Linked DNA regions of Homo sapiens. The protein of the gene in region 3 purifies or fractionates together with the protein of the main gene of each other region. This does not show direct contact. Each region holds a gene or a part of one and is shown on either strand. Other genes may lie near its edges.

Region 1 (3,500 bases), on a different chromosome or scaffold from region 3:
TTCAAGAAGAATTTTAATAATATCACTATCTTTTTTTTTTTGAGACGGAGTCTCGCTTTGTCGCCCACGCTGGAGTGCAGTGGTGTTATCTCGGCTCACTGCAAGCTCCACCTCCCGGGTTCAAGCCATTCTCCTGCCTCAGCCTCCTGAGTAGCTGGGACTACAGGTACCCGCCACCACACCTGGCTAATGTTTTTTGTATTTTTAGTAGAGACGGGGTTTCACCATGTTAGCCAGGATGGTCTCGATCTCCTGACCTCGTGACCCCGCCGCCTCAGTCTCCCAAAGTGCTGGGATTACAGGCGTGAGCCACCACGCCAGGCCAATAATGATATTACATCATGCTTAAGGACTGTTTCTAATAAAATGGTAAGAAGAGCTGCCCTCTTAAAAGTATAAATCAGTACCAAGATTTCCAATTGATAAGAATGTGAAAAATAACTACTTTATATATTCTGATTATCAAAACAATACTTACCTAAAAACATCAGAATATCTTAATGAATGCAATGAGTGCAGAAGCTCCATAATCCTGGCTTCAGGTTTTTTTTTTTTTTTTTTTGAGACAGAGTTTCACTCTGTCGCCCAGGCTGGAGTGCAGTGGTGCGATCTCGGCTCACTGCAACCTCCGCCCTCAGAGTTCAGGCGATTCTCCTGCCTCAGCCTCCTGAGTAGCTGGGATTACAGGCGCCTGCCACCACGCCTGCCACCACGCCCAGCTAATTTTTTTTTTTTTTTTGTATTTTTAGTAGAGACAGGGTTTCACCATCTTGGCCAGGCTGGTCTTGAACTACTGATCTTGTGATCCACCCGCCTCCGCCTCCCAAAGTGCTGGGATTACAGGCGTGAGCCACCGTGCCTGGCCGGTTTTATGTTTCTATGTGGAGGTTTTCCATTAAAGTAACATTCCTGGCCTCTCTCTCCCCTGCTTATTTAATTCACTCGTCTCCAAAGGCAATGCTATCTACTCAATAGCTCAAGCACCAAATCCAGGAGTCATCTTTGATTTCCTTTTTTCTGAGACAGACTCTTGTTCTGTTACCCAGGCTGGAGTGCAGTGGTGCGATCTTGGCTCACCGCAATCTCCACCTCCCTGGTTCAAGCAATTCTCCTGCCTCAGCCTCCCAAGTAGCTAGGACTACAGGTGTGCCCCACCATGCCTGGCTAATTTTTTGTATTTTTAGCAGAGATGAGGTTTCACCATGTTAGCCAGACTGGTCTCGAACTCCTGACCTCAGGTGATCTGCCTGCCTTGGCCTCCCAAAGTGCTGGGATTACAGGTGCTAGCCACCATGCCCAGCCTCATCTTTGATTTATTTCCTTCATCTCTCCCATCAGACTGATGAGCAAGTACTATAGATTTTATCTTCATACACCTTCGACATGCACCTTAATCAGTTCAGATTCTTACTATCTGCATCTTAGCCTAGGTCATGCTTATTTCATATCAAGATTACTGCAACAGTCTCCTAACAGTTTCCTTACTTGTATGCCTATCCCCCATAATCCATTTACTCCACAGCAGCCAATACCATCTTGTACAAATATAGATTAGGTCACTTAAAATCCTCCAATATTTTCCCATTGTCCTAAAAAATTATCACTTTATGCTGACTTATAAGGACCTACAAGATCCGGCCCCTGGCCACCCCTCTGATCTCATTGCCCACTTTTCCATCCCTCACCCATTATGTTCCAGCCATACTGACCTTCTTTCTGGCCACCACAGAGCTTTTGCACTGCTGTTCCCTCTTCCTGGAGTACTCTTCCAGACTCTTCTAAGACTGACTCCATGTCATTAAGGTCTTAGCTCTAATGTCGTGTTTTGAGAGAGGCCTTCCCTAATTACCCAAAGTAACCCCTTACTCATCTATTGAATTACCCTGATATTTTTGTTTATTTATTTGTTTAATGTCTGTCCCTCAACTGGAGTATATGTTCCATGATAGTAAGCACCTTGTCTGCCTTGTTCCATCTAGAAATCTATAAGTGAGCATGGCACATGGTAGGTTTTCAGTAAAGTTGACTAAATAACGACAAAAAAAATGAATAAATCTTAGTTTATTTTTAAAACTACAATAAAATATAGGAAAATAGAATTATTAACATGAAAAATAAGTGATTATGAAAACCAGTAGTAAATGTCTACAATGGTACAGTGGTTTAACACTGGAGGCAAGCAGAGAATTCTTAAATATTTAAACCAAGATATGATCACTTTACTTTTTTAGTTTACCTGAAGTATCCACGTTATCATGTCCTTCTGGCCTTCTAACTGGGGAATTCCTTTGAGTTTTTCCAAAAGCATTTGTATATTCATGGCTGAACTTCCCAATCCTTTTTTAAAACACAAAATCACACATCATAAATACATAAAGTCATCTCTTGGTATCCTCAGGGAATTGGTTTCAGGACCCCTGTGGACATCAAAGTCCACTAATGCTCAATTCCCTTATGTAAAATGGTGTAGTATTTGCATAAAATCTATACACATGCTTCTGTATGCTTTAAATCATCTCTAGATTACTTATAATGCCTAATACAATGTAAATGCTATGTAAATAGTTATTAGATAATATTGTTTAGGGAATAATGACAAGAAAAAAAAGTCTGTACATGTTCAGTACAGTGACAACCATCCTTTTTCCTTTTTCCCCCTGAATATTTTCAAACTGCGATGGGATGAATCCCTAGATATGGAACCCACAGATATGGAGGGTCAATTATGTCTTCATAATTATGTACAAATTACAATTTCTAGTTAATGTTATTTACATTGATAACCAAGGTTTGCCAATCAATCCCTTAACTTCATTAATTATTCAATGGACAAATCTGCAATTATATGAAGTACTGGATTACAATGATATGATCTACTAAATTTAAAAATGACTTTAAGTCTCTCTCTTACATCTTTTACTGGCACTGCTAAGTGAAAGCTACCCTAAATATCTGTCTCTGGTCTTTCCTCTGCTTGACTCAACATCTAAGCAAAAGTGCTTAATGAGAAACAAAATTGCCAAAAATATTGAAGTGGAGGACTGTATATCCATAAACTGAATAGGTTTTTGATGTCTTCAGGGATCTAAAAAATACAGCATGTAAATAGAAAATGTTTGTCTCCTATTGTTTTTATAATCAACATGCCTGGAATGTGCTTTGAAAAAAACTATCTTAATCAGGTAGCATTTATTAGAAATCTAATTTAAAACTATCCTTTTCTTCCAAGTTGAATACAACGCAAAATGAACGTTATCATTCAGATTTCTATCATTTAAAATTCAGAAACAATATCTTATTAAGACATGTCACTTGAATGCTATGGTTGACACAGCAGCAAATATTTGATAATACTGAGATGAGGAATGAAAGTTAAAAAATACCAATATATGCAACCAAAAAAAAAAAAAAGTGGGGCGATCATGTAGTAAAAAGATTGTAGTAAAGATTATAGTAAGGGATTAAAAAATATATTAGTATACTTGAAAATATTAGTTACA
Region 2 (3,500 bases), on a different chromosome or scaffold from region 3:
AGAAGAGACTGGAAAGCAGAAGAAATGGAAAGTAAATGAGAGCCTATTTCAGGGACTCGCTGCTCATGGCACAGCAGTTTTGCTGATTTTTCACATTGTTCAACTAATATGCTCACGCTAAAATTCCCCAGCTTTACTAAGTTGGCAGTTAACCCTTTCCCTATAGAGCCCATAGATTTATGAGCCATACATTTAGTAACTTCAGGAGGATGCTTCTTTAACTCTTTCTCTTCAGCTTTTTATCTGAAATCTCTACCCTTCAGGCCTCTCTTCCAATTCCTCAAAGAAGATGTCCTTGTGATTGTTACATTTAAGGGACAAAAATATGGTGTTCTCTATTGAGAGCGCCAAAAATACTAAACCGGAATTCCTCCATAGGCTCAGTATTTGCCTCAAAAATGTCCCAGCACTTTGAGAGGCTGAAGTGCGCAGATCACTTGAGGTCAGGAGTTCGAGACCAGCCGGGCCAACATGGCAAAACCCCATCTCTACTAAAAATACAAAAATTAGCTGGGCGTGGTGGCACACACCTGTAGTCCCAGCTACATGGGAGGCTGAGACAAGAGAATCACTTGAACCCGGGAGGCAGAGGTTGCAGTGAGCCCAGATGGCGCCATTGCACTTCAGTCTGGGCGACAGAGAGAGCCTCCATCTCAAAAAAATAAACAGAACAACAACTTTCTAGAGCTGCTCTCTTGAGAGACAACTGAGGAGTCACTATGGTTAAGTGTTTAGTAAATGTTACTATTATTACTACGTAGTGGGCATTGTGCTAAGCCCTTTACTTGGATTATATCCTCCATGATTTCACTTATGAAGACTTTAGCGATTTTTGTTTGTTTGTTTCTTTTTTTGAGTCTCACTCTGTCGCCCAGGCTGGAGTACAGTGGCACGATCTTAGCTCACTACAACCTCTGCCTTACAGGTTCAAGCAATTCTTGTGTCTTAACCTCCCAAATAGCTGGGATCACAGGTGTGCACCACCATTCCCGGCTAATTTCTGTATTTTTAATAGAGACACGGTTTTGCCATGTTGGTCAGGCTGGTCTCGAACTCCTGGCCTCAAGCAGTCCACCTGCCTTGGCCTCCCAAAGTGCTGGGATTATTACAGGCGTGAGCCACCATGCCTGGACTTTAGTTTTTTGTTTTTTTGGGTTTTTTTGAGACAGAGTCTCACTCTGTCGCCCAGGCTGGAGTGCAGTGGCGCGATCTCGGCTCACTGCAACCTCTGCCACCCAGGTTCAAGCGACTCTCCTGCGTCAGCCTCCTAAGTAGCTGGGATTACAGGTGCCTGCCACTGTGCCTAACTAACTTTTGTAGTTTTAGTAGAGACGGGGTTTCACCATCTTGGCCAGGCTGGTCTTGAACTCCTGACCTCGTGATCCATCCTCCTTGTCCTCCCAAAGTGCTGGGATTACAGGCGTGAGCCACCATGCCTGGCCAGACTTTATTTTTTATTATTTATTTATTTATTTATTTATTTATTTATTTTTGAGACAGAGTCTCGCTCTGTTGCCCAGGCTGGAGTGCAGTGGCGTGATCTTGGCTCACCACAACCTCCACCTCCCAGGTTCCAGTGATTCTCCTGCCTCAGCCTCCTGGATAGCTGGGACTACAGGCACATGCCACCACGCCCAGCTGATTTTTGTATTTTTAGTAGAGATGGGGTTTCACCATCTTGGCCAGGCTGGTCTTGGAACTCCTAATCTCGTGATCTGCCCACCTCAGCCTCCCAAAGTGCTGGGATTACAGGCATGAGCCACCACTGCGCCCAGCTAGACTTTAGTTTTTATAGTGAGGCTTGAGATTTGCATCTCCACTGGTCTCTTTGACATCTCAGAGGATCCATTCTGAACTTGCTAGGTTTCTTTCCCCTGCTGAATTGAGTTCTGCATCTTGAGTCTGCAGCAGTGTGAATCCTATCTTTGGCTCCATTTAACAGCCTATGGACGTTCCCAAACTTGGGACCCAGTTTGTCTCTTCATGATAGACAAATATTATTTTCAGAAGTCATTCTAATCGCACCACTGCACTCCAGCCTGGCAACAGTGAGACTCCATCTCAAAAAAAAAAAAAAAAGTCATTCTAGTAGGTGAGATTTCTGCCAGCATTGAGCCACTGCTCAACATATTCTTGATAATGGTCTCTGAACAGCATTTGATTTTACCTTGGAGTTGCAAAGTCAAAGTCTAACTCGCCAAACAAACTCAGTGTGGAATATACACATTTGTCTCATTCCGGTTTTAAGGAGTTTAGTATACCAGAGCTTTTGTGACCTCTAAAAAGCAGTTATCGTCCATGACAAGAATTGGCTCGTTCACCCTCAGTACTCTGGCTTACTATCCCAGGGAGGGCCGAGGGTGGCAGCAAAAGTGGTCTTTTGTAATCCCTTTTTATAACCTGCTGTTCTCTTCACAGACCTCCCAGGGTACCTTTTTTTGTGTGTGTGTGTGTGAGATGGAGTCTCACTCTCACCCAGGCTGGAGTGCAGTGGCGTAATCTCGGCTCACTGCAACCTCTGCCTCCTGGGTTCAAACTATTCTCTTGCCTCAGCCTCTCAAGTAGCTGGGATTACAGGCACCCGCCACCATGCCTAGCTAATTTTTATTTTTTATTTTTGAGACAGAGTCTCGCTCTGTCACCCAGGCTGGAGTACAGTGGCGCGGTCTTGGCTCACTGCAAGCTGCGTCTCCCGGGCTCACGCCATTCTCCTGCCTCAGCCTCCTGGGTAGCTGGGACTGTAGTCGCCCGTCACCACGCCCGGCTAATTTTTTGTATTTTTAGTAGAGACGGGGTTTCACCGTATTAGCCAGGATGGTCTCGATCTCCTGACCTCATGATCCGCCCACCTCGGCCTCCCTAAGAGCTGGAATTACAGGCGTGAGCCACCGCGCCTGGCCAATTTTTGTAATTTTTAGTAGAGAAGGGTTTTGCTATGTTGGCCAGGCTTGTCTCGAGCTCCAGACCTTAGGTGATCTGCCCGCCTTGGCCTCCCAAAGTGCTGGGATTACAGGCATGAGCCACTGTGCCCAGCCCCAGGGTACCTTGATGGCAGTACTAAAGTGTTTTTATTTTTCCCATCATTTGGGATTCACAAGCAGTTTTTGATATAACTAATTGGTGGGAATGTGCGGAGTTGGGGGTATTGCACTGAGTGATCCTTAGCCGCAGAAGTACAGAGACTAGACAGCTGATACTGATTCATGCCATGTCATTTCCTTCTGGGCATCTTTGCCATTTCATTCACCTCTCTTTGGTCTTTCTGAGTACTAATAGGATTATTAGTGAACTTACCATACTTCAAGAGTTAATTGATTTGCAAAAGGATTTCCTGATGTCTAAAAGTAGAATCAAAAGGATATTAGAGGTTAGAGTTTATTTTAATAAGTTTCTCTGGAAAATTTGAATTTCTGCCCAAAAAATTCATTTTTTATTTGAGACAAGGTTTCACTCTGTCACCCAGATCGTAGTGCCATGGTGCAGTCCTCCTACTTCAGCCT
Region 3 (3,500 bases):
CAGGCTGGTCTCGAACTCCTGACCTTGTGATCCGCCCACCTCAGCCTCCCAAAGTGCTGGTATTACAGACCTGAGCCACTGCATCTGGCCTATTTATTCTTTTTAATTTGTTATTCTTTTTAGAGACACGGTCTCACTATGTTGCTGAGGCTGGTGTCGAACTTGGGCTCAAACGATCCGCACGCCTCGGCCTCCCAAAGCATTGGGATTACTGGCATGAGCCACCACACCTGGCCCCTTCACTTCATTTAAACCTTAGCTCAAATGTCCTTCACTCAGGGACCCTTAACTCCTAAAGCAGTGTCTGGAATGCAGTAGGTACTAGTAAATATCAGTTACATGACTGAACATCACCTCCTCAGAGATACCTTTCTGAGCCATCCTTTCCAAAATATCCAAGTGACTGTTAGTTCCATTTAGTGCAATACGGTATTGCAGTTATGCAAGAAAATATAAAAATGTCTGCATTTGAAATGGGGCAAAATCTTAATTACCGATGACGCTGGATGAGAGTTTACGGGCATTCATTATCTTCATTGCTTTTGTATACATTTGAAATTTTCCATAATAAAGGAATTTAAATCAGAATAGGAAAAATAACAGTTCCCAATATCTATTACTCTCTGCCTGCCTTCTTCTGGTTTATTTTACTTCTTAGAACTGTCAAAGAGGCCGGGTGCAGTGGCTCACGCCTGTAATCCCAGCACTTTGGGAGGCCAAGGCGGGTGGATCACCTGAGATCAGGAGATTGAGACCAGCCTGACCAACATGGCGAAACCCCGTCTCTACTAAAAATACAAAAATTAGCTGGGTGTGGCGGTGCTTGTCTGTAATCCCAGCTACTCAGGAGGCTGAGGCACAAGAATCTGCTTGAACCCAAGAAGCAGAGGTTGCAGTGAGCCAAGATCGTGCCACTGCACTCCACCCAGGGCAACAGGGTGAGACTCTGTCTTGAAAAGAAAAGAAAAAAGAAAGAAAAGAAAAGAAAAAGTTGACAATGCCTTTTTTTTTTTTTTTTTTTTTTGAGACAGAGTCTTGCTCCGTCACCCAGGCTGGAGTGCAGTGGTGCAATCTTGGCTCACTGCAACCTCTGCTCATAGATTGGTGGGGCCAGCCAGGCACGGTGGCTCACGCCTGTCATCCCGGCACTTTGGGAGGCTAGGGCAGGCAGACTTGAGGACCCTGTCTTTACTAAAAATTCAAAAATTAGCTGGACCTGGTGGCGGGCACCTGTAATCCCAGCTACTGGGGAGTCTGAGGCAGGAGAATCGCTTGAACCCAACTTCAAGTGGCACCGGATAACCTAGAGGCAAGATAAAGCCTTTCCAAGAGCCACAGAAGCCTGAGAAGGAAGTCAAGAAACTGAGATCCCTGTGAACTCAGCCCGTACCACCCAATTTGGTTGGACCTCAGTTTCCTCATCTGTTCAGAGGTAGGAGCTACTAGATAAAATAAGGTGTTAAGCTGAGGGCCAAGGGGCCATCATGGGCAGGCTTAGGGAGGGCCATGAGTGCCTGAGATCATATGCACATGTGTGTATGTATGCATGTATTTCTGGGAAAAAGAGTCCTGGCTTTCACTTTCTCACAGGAAGTTCTGAACTCACAAAAGGGGAAGAACTAGTGTCCGGAATCTTTTTTTTTTTTTGAGATGGAGTTTCCCTCCTGTTGCCCAGGCTGGAGTGCGATGGTGTGATCTCAGCTCACTGCAACCTCCGTCTCCCGGGTTCAAGCAATTCTCCTGCCTCAGCCTCTCAAGTACCTGGGATTACAGGCATGTGCCACCATGCCTGGCTAATTTTTTGTATTTTTAGTAGAGGCTGGGTTTCACCATGTTGGTCAGGCTGGTCTCAAACTCCTGACCTCAGGTGACCCACCCACCTCGGCCTCCCAAAGTGCTGGGATTACAGGCATGAGCCACCGCACCCGGCTCAGAATCATCTTTAATATGCAGTTCAACCCTAGCTGGGGTTCTGAGATCCTAGGATTTGAACAATCTGTGATACTGTTATCCAAGTCAGCAGCTCTCCACGTGAGCTCCCAGGACCAGCGGCAGCATCACCTGGGAACTATGGGAAATGCAGATTCTCAGGTGGCACCCCAGGCCACTGAAATCAGAAATTGTGTGCAGGACTGGGAACAACAGTCCGTGTTGAACAAGCCGTCTAGGTGATCCTCTGACTCATTTTTTCAGCACACATTCGGGGCCTACCCTGCACCGGGCCTTGGGATACCCACAGCCCTTGCCCTTGCCAAGCCTCTTCCGTCCAGTCTCTCAAGACCTAGGCCAGGTGCAGTGACTCACGCCTGTAATCTCAGCACTTTGGGAAGCCAAGACCGGTGAATCGCTTGAGCCCAAGGAGTTTAAGACCAGCCTGGGGAGCATAGTGAGACCCTGTCGCTACAAAACTTTTTATAAATAAAAGACCCAACAGAGACTGTTTGTTGAGTCAAAGATCTACTTAGGGCCCCAGGGGAGCCCAGAGGCCTCACATCCATCTTGGATGTTGGAGAAAGGGGTTAGGAAGGAGGTAGTGTTCGAGCTGCCTTAAGAACAAATTTTCCTATGAAAGTTTTTTTTTTTTTTTTTTGAGATGGAGTCTTGCTCTGTTGCCCCAGGCTGGAGTGCAGTGGTGCAATCTTGGCTCACTGCAACCTCCATGTCCCAAGTTCAAGCAATTCTCCTGGCTCAGCCTCCCAAGTAGCTGGGATTACAGGCACACACCACCATACCCAGCTAATTTTTCTGTATTTTTAGTAGAGACAGGGTTTCACCATGTTGGACAGGCTGGTCTCGAACTCCTGACCTCATGTGATCCACCCGCCTCAGCCTTCCAAAGTGCTGGGATTACAGGTGTGAGCCACCGCGTCCAGCTGGAAAGTTTCAGATGTACACAAAAGCAGCTTCAACAATGACCAACTCATGGCCAATTTCCATTGCATCTCTACCCCTATCCACTATCTCTTTTTTTTTTTTTTTTGAGACAGGATCTCACTCTGTCACCCAGGCTGGAGTGCAGTGGTGCAATCACAGCTCACTGTGGCCTCCAGCTCCTGGGGCTCAAGCCAACCTCCCACCTCAGCCTCCTGAGTAGCTGGGACAAAAGGTACACACCACCAGGCCCAGCTACTTTTCATATTTTTTTTTTTGGGAGATGGGGTTTCACCATATTGCCCAGGCTGGTCTCCAACTCTTAGGCTCAAGCAATCCTCCTGCCTTGGCCTCCCAAAGTGGTGGGATTATAGCTGTGAGCCACTGCAGCCAGCCGACAATGGTTTATCTCAAAGCACATGCAATCCACCGTGTTGCTTCATCCATAAATATTTCAAATGTATCTCTAATTAAGACTACTTTAAAACACAGTCACAATACCATGTAAGAAAATTAACAATTCCTTGATATCTAGAGGAATATCTAGACAGAGTTCACATTTACCCAACTGTCTCATAAATATCTTTTTTTTTTAAGCCTGTGTAAATAAGGATTCAAGTAAGGTCTAC
Region 4 (3,668 bases), on a different chromosome or scaffold from region 3:
GGTGTGTGGATGGCAGTACGGCCTCATCAAGTTCCCATCCAGAGCTCCCCAGTGACCAGGGTCCAGGCTCAGGGCTGCAGGTGGGAGCTGGCAGGGGAGATGATGCTGTGTGGGGTGGCCCTGCCCTCTCTCCCCGGGACCCTCTGTCTCCCACAGTCTCAGGCAGCTGGTCCACCAGTTCAGTGGTGCAGGAGCCTGGAGGGGCTCAGCCCTGGGGCAGCTGCTCTGGGGGCTCAGGGGGGTCAGGCCGATTTCTACACTTCCCCAGCCTCAAAACAAGGGGAGGCAGGCAGGGGAGCAGGTACGAGGAAGCACAGGTCACTGAGGTCGGACGTGTGTGTCCACCTCTCCGCACGGGCACTGGTATGGGACAGCAGCCAAGAGGGCTCGCCCAGCTGGAACAGCTGGGGAAACCCAAGCCCAGAGAGGGGCCCAACCCAGGACTGCCGGGGGCGACGCAGGGGCTCTGGTGGCCAGAACAGAGAGACAGGACACAGGCGTGCCACTGGGCATTTATTCACACGGAGCAGCGTGGTCCTCAGTGCCCCGCTGGCCAGCAGGCACACAGGGCACGGCGCTCTGCCTGCAGCAGTAGGGTCTCCGTCTGCAAAGCAACAAGAGGGGTGAGGGTGCAGCCCAGCTGCCCACTGGCATTCCCCTGGGCCTCCACCCACCCAAGGCAGCCCTATCTCCACCGGCTCCTGAGACAGACAAGGTCAGGCCCTGGCTCTAACCCCCACACCCAGAGCCTCCCACTCATCTCTTTCCTCTGCAGTGGCTCCCACTGGTGGGGCCTGCCTGGGGTCTGCTGGTGCCCACGCCATGCCAGCGTGCCCACCTGCCTTCTTCCAGCTCCCACACCACCCGCAGGGGTCCACTGTCCCCCACTCCCTGCCACCCTCATGCCTAAGGATAGGTGGGGGCTGCTCCTCCCAAGAGCTCAGTTCCAGGCTCTGTGAGTGGGGAGAGGGCTCCAGGTCTTAGTCGGAGCCCTCTGGAGTGTTCCCAAGAAGGACACTAGGGCTGGTGGGGGGTGGGACCAGGCAGGGTCTTCCCTGCTTTCTCCTTCCTAGAATTCTCCCTTTCCAGGAAGAAGCTTGAGCCCCGGCACAAACAAAAACTCCTTGGCTGCACCCCATGGCGTGGGGGCTCCCTGTTCATCCAGGCTTGGAGGGGCCTTAACCAACCTGTGCATCCACCCAGGATCCAGACCACCCTGCCCAGCCTGACCCCCCATTCCTGACACTTTCGCCACATCCTCCGGCCTCAGTTTCTCCTCTGCCCTGGGGCCTTGCCGCCCACCTAGGGGATCCTGGATTGGGCTGACAGTCCTTCCCCAGGGTCCAGATCTGTCACAGCCCTCAGGAGTGGCGGTCATAGGACAAAGTGCCCAGTGAGAGCCTTCTGGGGGAGGGGCTAGAAATAGAGTATGCTGGAGAGAGGGGCGTCTCATAGGTGAGACAGGTGCCCAGAATGCCCCTTGGATGACTGGAGCCAGAGGAAGGGGGCAAGGTGCGGCATCTTAAATCGGGGTGAAGGATGAGGGACACTCCACTCCCGCAGGGGGCCTCTTCCTCATCCTCCCTGCCCTCCCCACCCCCTGGGAAGCCCGGGAGGACCGTCGCGCCGCGGGCGCTCACCCGCGCGTCCAGGCTGCAGGCTGTCTTCCGCAGGTCCTGCAGGGCGCGCTGCATGAACTCGAAGGCGTGGCAGTCCACGCATGGGCGGCCTGCGGGGGGCGCGGGTCAGGGTGGAGGGGGCGCAGGGGGGGTCACCCGCAAGGCCCCCACGCACTCTGGGCCCGTCCACCCAGTGCCAAAGAGCGCACGTCCCCACTCCCCAAGCCACCATCTCCCGCGAAGGGGAGGACCCGCTCCCGGGAACAAAGGCGAGGCGCGGTCCTCCCCGCAGAGCCCCGGCCCCGCACGCCCCTGTCGCCAGCCCCGCCCCGCTCCCCGGAACCCGGCCCCCGGCACCTACTCTGCGCGGGGACGGCACTCCCGGCGGGCTCGGCGCGGGCCCGGGCGCCCAGCAGCGCCAGACTCAGCAGCAGCAGCAGCAGCGGCGGCGGCGGCGGTGACATCGGGGACCGGCACGCGGGCGGGGGGGCCATGGCCAGCAGAGGGAGCGGGGCCGCCCTGAAGCCAGCGAGGGGTCAGCGGCGCCCGCCCCGCCCGCCCCGGGCCGGTGAGCCCCCGTCCCCTCCCGCGGGCCCCACGACCCTTGTCCAAGCCCCAGGCCTGGGAGCCCTGGACCCACCCACCCCGGGCCCGGGAGCCCCCTCCCCACCTCCGGTTCCCCGACTCCAGTCCGCCGGTCTCCGGGCCCAGCGAGCCTCTAGTCCGCGCCCCGTATCTAGAAAACGCCCATTCGGACGCCCGCACCACCGCCCTTACCGCGGTTCAGGGACCCCGGGACCAGCAGCGCGGGGACACCGGCAGACGTTCCGCGTCCGGCGCGCAACGCGCATGCGCTCCGACCCGACCCCGCCCGGGTTCCCCATCCGACGTCGTCGTCATGGAAACCCGAGACTGCGCTGGCCGCGGGTTTAGAGGAACCTAGGACGCTCCAGGAATCGGGTGTGCCTGGCCCTGGCCGGGGGCTGCCCCCGGGAGCAGCGTCCAGGCCCATGGCGGATGCAGTCTAGAGGACTGCCTGGAGGAGGCGGCGCCGGGGCGAGACCTCCAGAGCGCAAGGCCGGCGGGAGAAAAGCTGAGGAAGTGGGAAATCTGTGGCTGGAGCTCAGCAGGTCAGGAGCGATCCTGAGGGAGCTGCTCGATGCTCGCGAGGCGCGGGGAGCTGCGCATGCAAACGCTTGGCCTCCGACCGCGGGCGAGTGGGGTCCAGTGTGGGGTCGCACCGCCCGGAGAGAGCTGGTCTGGGGGATCGGCTCGGGGGATCCGCCCTCGCCCGGCTTTTCCCTGGCCCAGCCTCTCCCCGATCCTCGGGCGTCAGGGTGGGCACCAGCCTGCTCGGTCCCTCCCGGCTACCCACCCCCAACCCAGGGTCCTCCTCTCCGCCTCTCGGTGTCCTCGGAGACCGGAGAACCGCTTGCGCGGAGCCCCGACCACAGGTCCTCGGCCTCTCTGTGCCGATTTCAGTCCCGTGAACTCAGGGCTGTTGGCCTTAAAGAGCGCCGTGCAGCCAGTGGCCCCCGGGGGCGCCCGGCAAGTGCGAATCTGGGCCCCGGACGCCCTGGGAGGGATGGTCCCAGCCGTCGGAGCCAGGCCCCCACGCCGACACCGACACAGGCGGTGGCCTCCTCAGAAGGCGCCCCAGGCGCACGTGGGTGCTGGCGCCCCCGCTCCCCCCCCACCCCACCCAGCAGCCCGCGCTGTGGCCGGGAGCTCAGGGACTAACCACACCTCCCGCCAGACCCTCTTCTTGGTGGGCGGAGCCGCACCCCTACCTGGAGGCCGCCCCGCTCGCCGTGCAGGACCCGGAGCCTCGGGCGCCCCCCTCCCCAGCCTAGCCGACCTCTACCCCCAACCCCCGGGGTTCTGGCCGGTGGTCTTCCCGGCACAAGCTGGGACTGCGGACGCACCTGCTTCTCGCGTGGTCAGAGCCGCCCCTGCCCCGGCCGGACGCGGGTGTCCTGACCCTAAGAGTGGGTGGGAGGGTGGGTTGGGGAAGCGTGCCCGTGACTGCCGCTGCCTCCTCCGGGTTGG

Evidence for each region. Proteins that work in one complex are often made in the same cells at the same time.
Region 1: the proteins of TGFB1 (region 3) and UBR1 purify together in Homo sapiens (affinity purification with mass spectrometry; 4 studies listed by BioGRID and IntAct, with this or other methods). This does not show direct contact.
Region 2: the proteins of TGFB1 (region 3) and NMT1 purify together in Homo sapiens (affinity purification with mass spectrometry; 3 studies listed by BioGRID and IntAct, with this or other methods). This does not show direct contact.
Region 4: the proteins of TGFB1 (region 3) and NICOL1 purify together in Homo sapiens (affinity purification with mass spectrometry; 3 studies listed by BioGRID and IntAct, with this or other methods). This does not show direct contact.

The regions. Positions count from the first base shown.
Region 1 is NC_000015.10:43,019,039-43,022,538, forward strand, and holds part of UBR1 (E3 ubiquitin-protein ligase UBR1), read right to left. Parts: intron 2,338-3,500; coding exon 2,237-2,337; intron 1-2,236. UniProt on the Homo sapiens protein: E3 ubiquitin-protein ligase which is a component of the N-end rule pathway. Recognizes and binds proteins bearing specific N-terminal residues that are destabilizing according to the N-end rule, leading to their ubiquitination and subsequent degradation.
Region 2 is NC_000017.11:45,067,817-45,071,316, forward strand, and holds part of NMT1 (glycylpeptide N-tetradecanoyltransferase 1), read left to right. Parts: intron 1-3,500.
Region 3 is NC_000019.10:41,333,423-41,336,922, forward strand, and holds part of TGFB1 (transforming growth factor beta-1 proprotein preproprotein), read right to left. Parts: intron 1-3,500. UniProt on the Homo sapiens protein: Transforming growth factor beta-1 proprotein: Precursor of the Latency-associated peptide (LAP) and Transforming growth factor beta-1 (TGF-beta-1) chains, which constitute the regulatory and active subunit of TGF-beta-1, respectively.
Region 4 is NC_000004.12:2,040,797-2,044,464, reverse strand, and holds NICOL1 (NELL2-interacting cell ontogeny regulator 1 precursor), read right to left. Parts: upstream 2,471-3,668; 5' UTR 2,397-2,470; exon of another isoform or gene 2,290-2,396; intron 2,139-2,289; coding exon of another isoform or gene 2,114-2,138; coding exon 1,981-2,113; intron 1,730-1,980; coding exon 1,641-1,729; intron 605-1,640; coding exon 539-604; 3' UTR 501-538; downstream 1-500. UniProt on the Homo sapiens protein: mRNA-binding protein which interacts with a range of target mRNAs including SERPINE1, ACTA2, CCN2 and COL4A1 and may promote extracellular matrix production.